Regions from separate parts of the Homo sapiens genome. Here region 1 is linked to region 2. The links come from fine-mapping of genetic effects on gene expression. A gene starts in region 2. The other region holds a variant in brackets. All regions are shown on one strand. Distances are from middle to middle. Region 1 has its middle 94 kb from the start of LINC00636. Region 2 holds the start of CD47 (CD47 molecule).

Region 1 (4,392 bases), 110 kb before region 2:
GAAGCTGAATTGGAGATGCATATTTGAGAATTATCCAGGCGTGTGCAGTAGTTGAAGTCAAGGGCATCCAATGAGTCTAGCTGACTTGGGCAACTGATGTGAGGTCACATTGCCTCCTTAGGCAAAAAGAACCATTAGGTGAAAACTGTGGCCAGCTAACCTGTTAGCTTGGAAGTGAGACAAAATCTCTGACCCTTCACAAATTCTCACTTAACAATTTTATATGTAGATCACCTCCAAGCAAATCTGCTCCCCAGCTAGAAGGAGTACCCTGACCTAGAATCCATCCCATCCTTCCCTCAGGAAACAGTGGGGATAGGGACTTTTAGGATACTTCAGAAAGCATTTTTTGCACTCCAAGTCCAGGACTATTTGTGGTGTTTCCTATAGGATGAAGTACAGATTGTCTCCTCACTATGCAAGCTCATCCAATAGGTTGTCACTGAATCAAGTGCATCATATTCTTGCAGGTAGATAAGGTCCTAGAGAAATCATTAATTATCAGAGACAGAAATTTCTGAATCTTAACTGAGGAGGAGACACTCTTTCTAATGGCAGCACTAATTTTGCACAACTAACTCTTCCTCTAGCAACCTTAGCACTTGACATCTACCTGCAAAGCAGACTTCAGCAACCCTTTGTTCCTCTTCCAGTTCCAGACCATGCCTCAGGGCCTGCAGATGCCAAAGAAAGGACCACTCCTCAGGCACCACCACATCATGGCAACATCTCAGCAGCTCAAAGACGTGGCAGCTGTGTGTGTGTGATTGTACAGAAAAGCTTCAGCAGCTTTGAAATTACTGTGTGCTTGTACAGAAATGCTTTCTAATTACAGCCCGGCTTCCCCTCCCCACCTAGAACATTCTGCAACTCCCAACAATTCTCACTACTCAGAGGTTCAAGCAGTTGAGGGACTTTAAGCTCTATTAACTTTATAGAAAATCTATGTCTGTTTGTATGTCTTTCTTTTGCTGAAGCTGTTTCATTGAAGTCCCCCCACACTTTCAAAATTTAAAAGGAAGCAATGCTAACAGGAAGTAATGCTTTGTAAGTAGGTCATCATATTTCTGATCAGGGCACACTTAAGAAAATTTATTTTGTAGAGGCAGGTTCTTGCTGTGTTGCCCAGGCTGATCTCAAACTCCTTGCCTCAAGCGATCCTCCTGCCTTGGCCTCCAAAAATGCTGGGCATGAGCCACTGCCTGGCATCAGGGTCCACTTTTGATGCACTCAAATTATTACCTCTCCAATCCCCACCCCCTCACCGCCTCACATCCCCACATATACATAGTTGCTTATCTCCATCTAACAAAGCCAGCCTGCACTGTGCATGAGATAGTGATCTATATGGAAGATTCCAGACTTGCCTTTATGGAGACAGCAAGACTGTTCTGATGACCACCTCCGTATTTATTTTTCCTCCAGGATGAAATTTACTCTAACTTCCCAGTTGTCTGCCCTGTCATCCACTAATAGAAAAGATCTTGTGTTAATCCTACCTTTTCCGTCCAGGAAGGAAAAAAAGAGCTCATCCCAGCCTGTTGTGCAGCACCACCTGCCCGTTTGTCCATAGCCAAGCAATGATGGATCTGTGCTAGGGGGATGAATGGGAATTGTGTTTATTTTATGAGCTGCAGAAAGTTGGCTAGGGAACCCAGCAGGAGGCTTAACTGGAAAAAAATGATTTTATCTTATGCTGTGTATCTGCTGTCTAGAAAAATATATGGCATTATCCTGGCTTGAAATTGGGAAAGAAAATAAAGGAGGACGGACTTTTTTTTTTTTCCAAATACTGGATTTGAGGGATTAACTTCAGGTAGGTCTTTCTCTGTTTTTGGGGATGACCTGCTCAAACCAAGGGCCCTCTGCTCAAACTGGGTGGTGGCAGGAAGGGAGTGTGAGCCACGCAGGGACAGGGGCCTGGCAGAGGGTCCCCAGGCCAGTGCTCAGTGACCTGGAGAGAGTCCCACACTATTTGCAACCTTTTGGATGAGGGGAGGGTGCAGCTGTCCTCAAGAATTGAGAGTTTTTCTCATGGCAATATTATGATTTGTTTTCTCTTGGAAGTCACCACACTTACCTTCATGAGAATTTAGCTAAACAATTTAATATGGAACTGCTTTAGAGGATGTTATAAAGAAAAGCTCATTGTTGAAGTCTGTACTTTTAAATTTGATCGATTGATTGATCCATTGATTGGTCACAGTGTCTGAGTTGCTTTCTTGCTAAAGCAGTTCCCCTAAGTTTTACTTTGCACAAGGTCCAGATTGACTCAGGTTGTGAGAAGAGGGTTTTGGTGTGGACATTTGAAAAATATCTCACTTGCAATTCCTGGCTGGAAAACTACTGGGAAGGGGGACATAGTGAGAAAAGGATCTTATTGATGAAAAGAAACAGCGCCAACAGAGTCAAGGCCAGATGGGATTTC[G/A]TTCTTAATGTAGTAACTGTATGTCTTGTTTCTCACTCTCTTTACGCCATATGAGAGGCGACAGATACGGCAGAAAAATACAGAGGGCAATGGCAGTAGCGTGGGAACATTAGAAAGACAAGTAAAAATCGTGCCTTTAAGTTGCTCTTGCAGCCCAAGCAGTGGTCCTTGACCATGACGGAAGAGCTGAGGACCCCTGCTAACCCTGGTAGCATCTTTATACAAATTAGAAAATGTCCCCTTTCCTCCAGGAGGTCAGGCAGGGTGAGAGAGGAAGGGCTGAATTTCAGCCTCTCTGCAGTCCCTTGGGAAAATGCCCTTGTGCAGTAACAGCCTGTAGACCTGGGAGAGAAGCCCCCAGTGGCTGAGGAAAGACTCATGAACTTGAATGTCTTCCCTGGGATCAGTCTTCCTGGGAGTCCCAGCCCTCCTGGCTGGAACACAGCTCCAGGACTTCTGGGCAACCCAATTAGATGAGGGCAAATATCACAGCCACAGAATATCTTTTTATTTTTTTCTTCAGTAAGAAGCCCTTTCCCCTCAGAGGCCACTGTAATTAACCCAAGAGAGAATAAGCCATGCTTCCAGCCCAAGAAGCAGCTGCCATCAGGGTTTGACATATTTAAACTGAAAATCTGTTTTCGGGGCTCACCCAATGTATATGTCCCTCCATGTGAAAACCTTATAGTTGGTGTTTAAAAAGGAAAGAAAGAAAAGAAAAGCCACATTTGTAGTCCATCTGCCTTTATCCCCTTCCTCCTAGATCCACACCAAGTCTAACCATACAATATTCTATATGAGGGAGTTTCTCTGCTCATTAAGGAATTAGACAATGACAATCCTATTGCCTGTGCCAGGGTGGGCGCCGGCTGCAAGCTCCTTTGTCTAAATGCCACAAATTGTTACAGTTTTGCTCTGCACTTTGGGTGTTGGCGTCATCACCCTTTAATTGGCCAGAAGACTCTGCTGTAACATTCAAAAGGAATAACAACATTCTCAGTCCCTGTCCAGTTTTCAATATAATTATTTGTCAGAATCATATTAACCTGCTGTATGACAAACCCATAAAATAGATTCATTTAGGTCTCCAGGAGTCCTCCCTCATTAACTCTGATATTTATAGCCATGGCTTCAGTGCTATAGTTCTTCCTCCTGTGAAACACTGAGCAAGGATGTCAGATTTCTCTGGCGCTATTAGAGGAGTTGTTTGTTTTCCAGTGTTGCAAAGAGGAACAGAAGAAACCTAGCCATGGGTCCAGGCCCCTGCGAAACCTGATTGGCTCTTCTGCCCATTCCTCTCTTTTTAGGGAAGGGGAAGAGAGCTAAAACTAGACGCTTGCACACAAATCCTACACATTTAATAACTTGCCCAAGGTAATAAGGTAGAACTAATTAGACTGAGTTATTCAGAAAGCTGGTTCTGAAATGTGACTTCCTGGGATCAAAGTCTGGCTTTACCACTTCCTAGCTTGGGTAAATTGCTATATTTCCTTTGACTTTGGCTTCCTGATTTTAAGAGAAGGGTAATAATAGTTCCTAACTCATGGGGTTTTTGTGGGGGGTTCAATAAATTAATGTTAAGTTATTAGAATAATCTGTGGCACATAATAAGTGAAAAATAAGTGTAACTTAAAAGTGTGACTATAATTAATAACATTACCGTGAGCCACAGCTAAGCCAAGTTTTCACCTGCAGGTGTATGCCCTAGGCCAGTTGGCTTCACATTGTGTTTTAGGGATCCCTGGGATTGGGTGGAGATGGCTCAGGCTCCCCAGAGATAGAGGTCTCTTAGCTGTGGACAGCCTGGTGGGTAAAACTCATCAGAAAAGACACCCCCATCCTCCAGCCAGAGCCTTGGCATTTTTATCCATTCAATGTATTGGAATTCTAGATAAGTTCTCATTTAAAGAATGGGTTCTAAGCTCACAACAAATGGAAAACTGTGGCTCCAGATATTTGTGACC
Region 2 (4,392 bases):
TACTCATTCTAGATTCTAAAGTCAGTCTCTCAAACCCTTGGTTTATAACTACCTATGTGCTGAGACATCTTTCTTCATACATGTCCTTTTGAAGCTATATATTAAACACATACAAAAACATATTTTATAACAAATACTATCCTGTTTTACAGTCCACACTTAACACAACTCAACTGCATAATGCCTGTATTTTGCTTTTTTTTTAGGTTAATATTAACTAAGTAAAATAAAATACTATAAATTCTGAATTCGATGACTCTAGGGATTCGAACACATTAAAATTGTGTGTAAACGAGTGCTAATTACATGATATTAACTATTACTAAAGAAGGCCTAACATAAATCCTATCACTCAAAGTACCATTCCAACAGTTCTAAACTACGTGATTTAAATCTAACCTACCTGTTTTAAAAATAGTATATGGTTTATACTTTTTACTTTTTAGGCAGTTTGAATAAATGATACTGTATCACTTCATATCTGGTTCAATATGAAGGCGTTCTGAAATTATTATGCGATTATACAACACATCTCTGAAAGCAGTATTATTTTAGCTATAATGATAGTAAAGGCAACAAGCATACTAAACGTGATGACAGGAAACACTAACATCAACCATTTAGATAACGGAGACCTGGATTCACAGTCCCAACATCCAGGATGCTCGGGGAGGGAGGAAAGTGGTAAGCAGAGACTTAAGGGCATCTTGGAAATACCTAAAGTCACAAGCCTTTAGGAACGGCACACCGAGGCTAATAATCAGTTTAAAATCGAATTAATTTAGCATTCTAGAATAAATGTAACAATTGCTGTCACTGGTGCTCAAGCTGAATTCTGAATCTTATAAAAGTTCACAAAAGGCTCTATGGATGTGAAGTGTGACAGGCACTCACTGTAGAGCTACGAATGTTTCTATTCCTTGCTCAGTTTTTACAGACGAAGCACACGTTTTACAAAAGCGAAATGGATTCCAAAAGCTCGGGGTGGGGGTGGGGGGGTGGAGGTTCTTTGGCGTCGAAAAACACCAAATCCCATTCTGCTGCACATGTTTTGACTGGAGGTTACTGTCTTCCTATTTCAGGCGAAAACCAGATTACTTTTAAAACGGTTCCCCCAAATAAAGTGGGAAAAACTTCAACGTACAATTTAGAATGTATGCAAGTGGCTGATGGGGCGTGAGGGTCACGAGAAAGGAAGAGTTTCCAGCAAGCTTATTTTTAGGATTAAAAACGACAGCAAAAATTACACGGCCGGAAGATTCTTCTGATTGAATGCTGAGTTGAAAATGAAACTTAATTGTGTCCTTTACGTCCTCTTCGCTCCTATGTTCATGTGGGAGGCAAACGGCAGAAACCCCTTCTCACCGACTTCGCCAAAATGCGCACTTCCATCGCAAGAGGCCCGGGCCCTCCCACTCTCCCTCCCTCAACCCCAAATGCGTCTAAGCACTGAGAAGGGAGAGGGGTGCGAAAGAAGGGGATCCCTAGCAGCTGCAGCCCCTTGCCTCTGATCGCGCCCTTTCTTGCTAGTTAATTTTTGCGCGAGGTGCGCGGTTTGGAGTCTTCCTGTGTGTGTGCATTTGGAGATGGAGAACCGGGTGGAGGAGATGAGCCCCGCTCTCACCCAGGGGGAAGAAGACGACCAGGGAAAGGAAGGGAGGAAGAAGGGGGGCGCCCGATTCCCCGTGGGGCCCTCCCACGTCTGCACTTCGGGCGCTCAGGGCCCGAGTGTTCTGCGCCCCGGCCACCCTCTTCAGGGCGCCGCCGGGCTGGCTGGGGCGCAGCCCACACGCCCGCGGGGGCGAAGCGACAGCAGCCGCAGGGCTGGGAGCGAGGAGCCACTCACCGCAGCACGCCGAGCCCAGCAACAGCGCCGCTACCAGGGGCCACATCTCCGCGCCCGCCGCGGGGTCGCCGCCGCCGCCGCAGGTGTCCGGAGCAGCAGCCGCCGCCGCCGTTACAGGCAGGACCGACCGCCGCCGCGCGTCACAGGCAGGACCCACTGCCCAGGCTGCACGGCCGCGCGCACGCGCGCTCCCACTGCTTCCCGCCCGCTCCCCCGCCTGCTCCCCGCCCGCGAGAGCCGCGCACGCGCACTCGGCCCCGCCCCGCAACCGCTGCTGTTGACGCGGCGCCCTCCCCAGTCGCAGGCTCCAGACCCGGGGCCCGCCTGCCCGCTCCACGGAGGCCGGATGCCTGCTCCAGGGCGGTGGCACGCGCCGCGCTTCCAGGTCACGTCCTGTCGCACCCGCCCGCCCCTGGGGTCCGCGTGCTCGCCCGCCGCAGGAGGCTGAACCCTGTGTTCCCACGCTCGCCGGGGACCTCATTGCACCCGTTCCTGTCCGCGGGTCGGTTCCTGCCTTTCGCGCGGCGCTGGGCCCCACTGTCCTCTCTCTCTACTTTTCTCCTCTTTGCTTTCACTCCCACCCTCGCGCTTCAGGGGCCGGGTCCCGTCCCGCCCCAGCCCGCGTCTCTCCCTGGACCCGACGTCCGGCTGCGCGCGTGGACCAGGACACCTAGGCTTTCACCAGCGCCCGTTTCCTCCGGACGCGGCCGTCTAGCGCCGAAGCGGTCCCTGAGCCCGAGGCCGCCACGCCCAGGGCAGGGCGGTGGTCGGGTACCTGCCCGCAGGGAGCTTCCACTCGCCCCTCGCGGGCTCTGCGTTCGGCTCGTCTACTCGCTCTGCTCTTCCCTATGCGGTTCTCTTCCCTCTTTCTCACTTGGTTCTTTAGTGTTTTCATCCTCTGATCAGGGTTAATCAAACAAGTTCCATTCACGGTGGTAAACATTGTTACCTGTGAACACCGCCACCACCGGGACTAGCGAGCATTGTCGCAAACAGGCATTAGCAGCGTATCCAACACATCCCCACCAGCAAGGTTATTGAGCTTGGTTTGTGACTGCCCCATGTGCAGCCCTCTGCGCTGCGCTTGGGTTTAACATGCTTGAAAAATGGGTTCGAAATGTGGCCGCAAGCCACAATAGGGACAAGGCTTTTGAATTTATCGCTGAATCACACAGGCCACATCATTCATCCTGAAGCAAAAGTCTTTTAAAGATACTTTTAACCGTTATCCTAACTGATGTACTCTCTTATCAAAAAGTCAGGCTCTGGTGGCTGCTCTAATGGAGTGCACATCCTGTCCACCTCCTTGATTGTTTTCCTCCTACCTCCTGGGAAAGAAAGCAATTTCCCACCACAATACCCCACTTCTCCAAATCCTCTACACAGTGCGGCTCCTCCCAAGCATCCCATTGCCACAGAAATAAAATCCAGCGTATGAAAGTGGCACTGTCTATGACACTCTGTACCAGTGTATTGTATACTATCGAGCTTCTTCCTGTAATTGCTTTTTTGTGTGAACCTCTTCCCCACAGCATTATCAATTCTTTTAAATCCGAGAGCATTTTAAGTATTCCCTCCTCCAAGACTTTCCATTGAGCTCGGCAAACAGAAGGGGTTTAATAAATGTGTTGATGCGGCGTGAGGCAGGCATTGCTCTAGTGAAATTTGATTGCTTTTTTAATGATTGAAAAATAAAAACAATTGCCTGGCAGACATCTCACTAAAACAATGGTTAATAATTATGGTGGTAATGATTTGAATGGCAGCCTTGACACCCCGAGGCAACCAAAGGGACTCATCGATTCTCCTCCAACTGCTGCTTATGTGGATACAAAAGAATCATCCACCAGACTTTGAGCATTAGGGACATTGTGTATCACAGAGCAGCTGGTTGGCTAAATAAGGCTGTCAGCTGTCCCTGATACCAACCAACCCCCCTAAAGCTGAAGAGTGACTAGAAAGGACTGTCCCCAACCTTCAGAGGTGGAGATCGGGTGATGTTCTGTTTTACACTGGGAGCTACTGAGCTATATGCTTAACGTCTTTTTGTGCAGAAAATGGAATGAGAGGCCACCTGGGTGACCACTGCTGCTCTTGGGAATCTAGCTGGGGTATGTTTTGGTGGTGGGGCAAAAGCAGGCATATCCCAGGAGAGACAGTCCAAAGCAGCCTGCCTAGGTTTGATTATCCTCTCTCTGAGATAACCTTAAGCTCTTTTCAGTATTTAATCATTTTAAAGGTTTGCCTTTTAACTTTTCAAAGCATTTTAATTTGGATGTTGAGCTCATCTTATCTGTATGTAAGGAGTTTCTTGGGTAGAGAGGGAGGGGATAATACATATTAGAATGTTTTGAACACAGGAAGTACACATTAGCTATATCACCTAAGTTAATCTTCATAACAACCTCAGAAAGGATAAATGTTATGATCTCCCTTTTTGAGATGAGGAAACAAAGGGAAAGAGGAATGGTGAGCACTTTGCCCACAGTTATAAGTGACACTGCTCTCTCTCTTGTCTCTCTCCCTTGTTCTGGTTTTCATCCTTT

What was found. PIP is the estimated chance that this variant, and not a neighbour inherited with it, causes the effect.
Region 1: its variant is fine-mapped to the expression of CD47 in spleen (GTEx, PIP above 0.99).

Annotation. Positions count from the first base shown.
Region 1 is chr3:107,975,012-107,979,403 of GRCh38, forward strand. No RefSeq gene overlaps it. Among named protein-coding and RNA genes, the nearest start is that of LINC00636, 94 kb to the left of the region's middle. The variant G/A (reference allele first, on the strand shown) is at 2,429.
Region 2 is chr3:108,089,017-108,093,408 of GRCh38, forward strand. It overlaps CD47 (CD47 molecule), which reads right to left and starts at 2,015. Exons shown (of 11, transcript NM_001777.4): 1 at 1,847-2,015. The coding sequence starts at 1,892. RefSeq lists silencers at 1,739-2,488, 2,509-2,558, 2,569-2,628.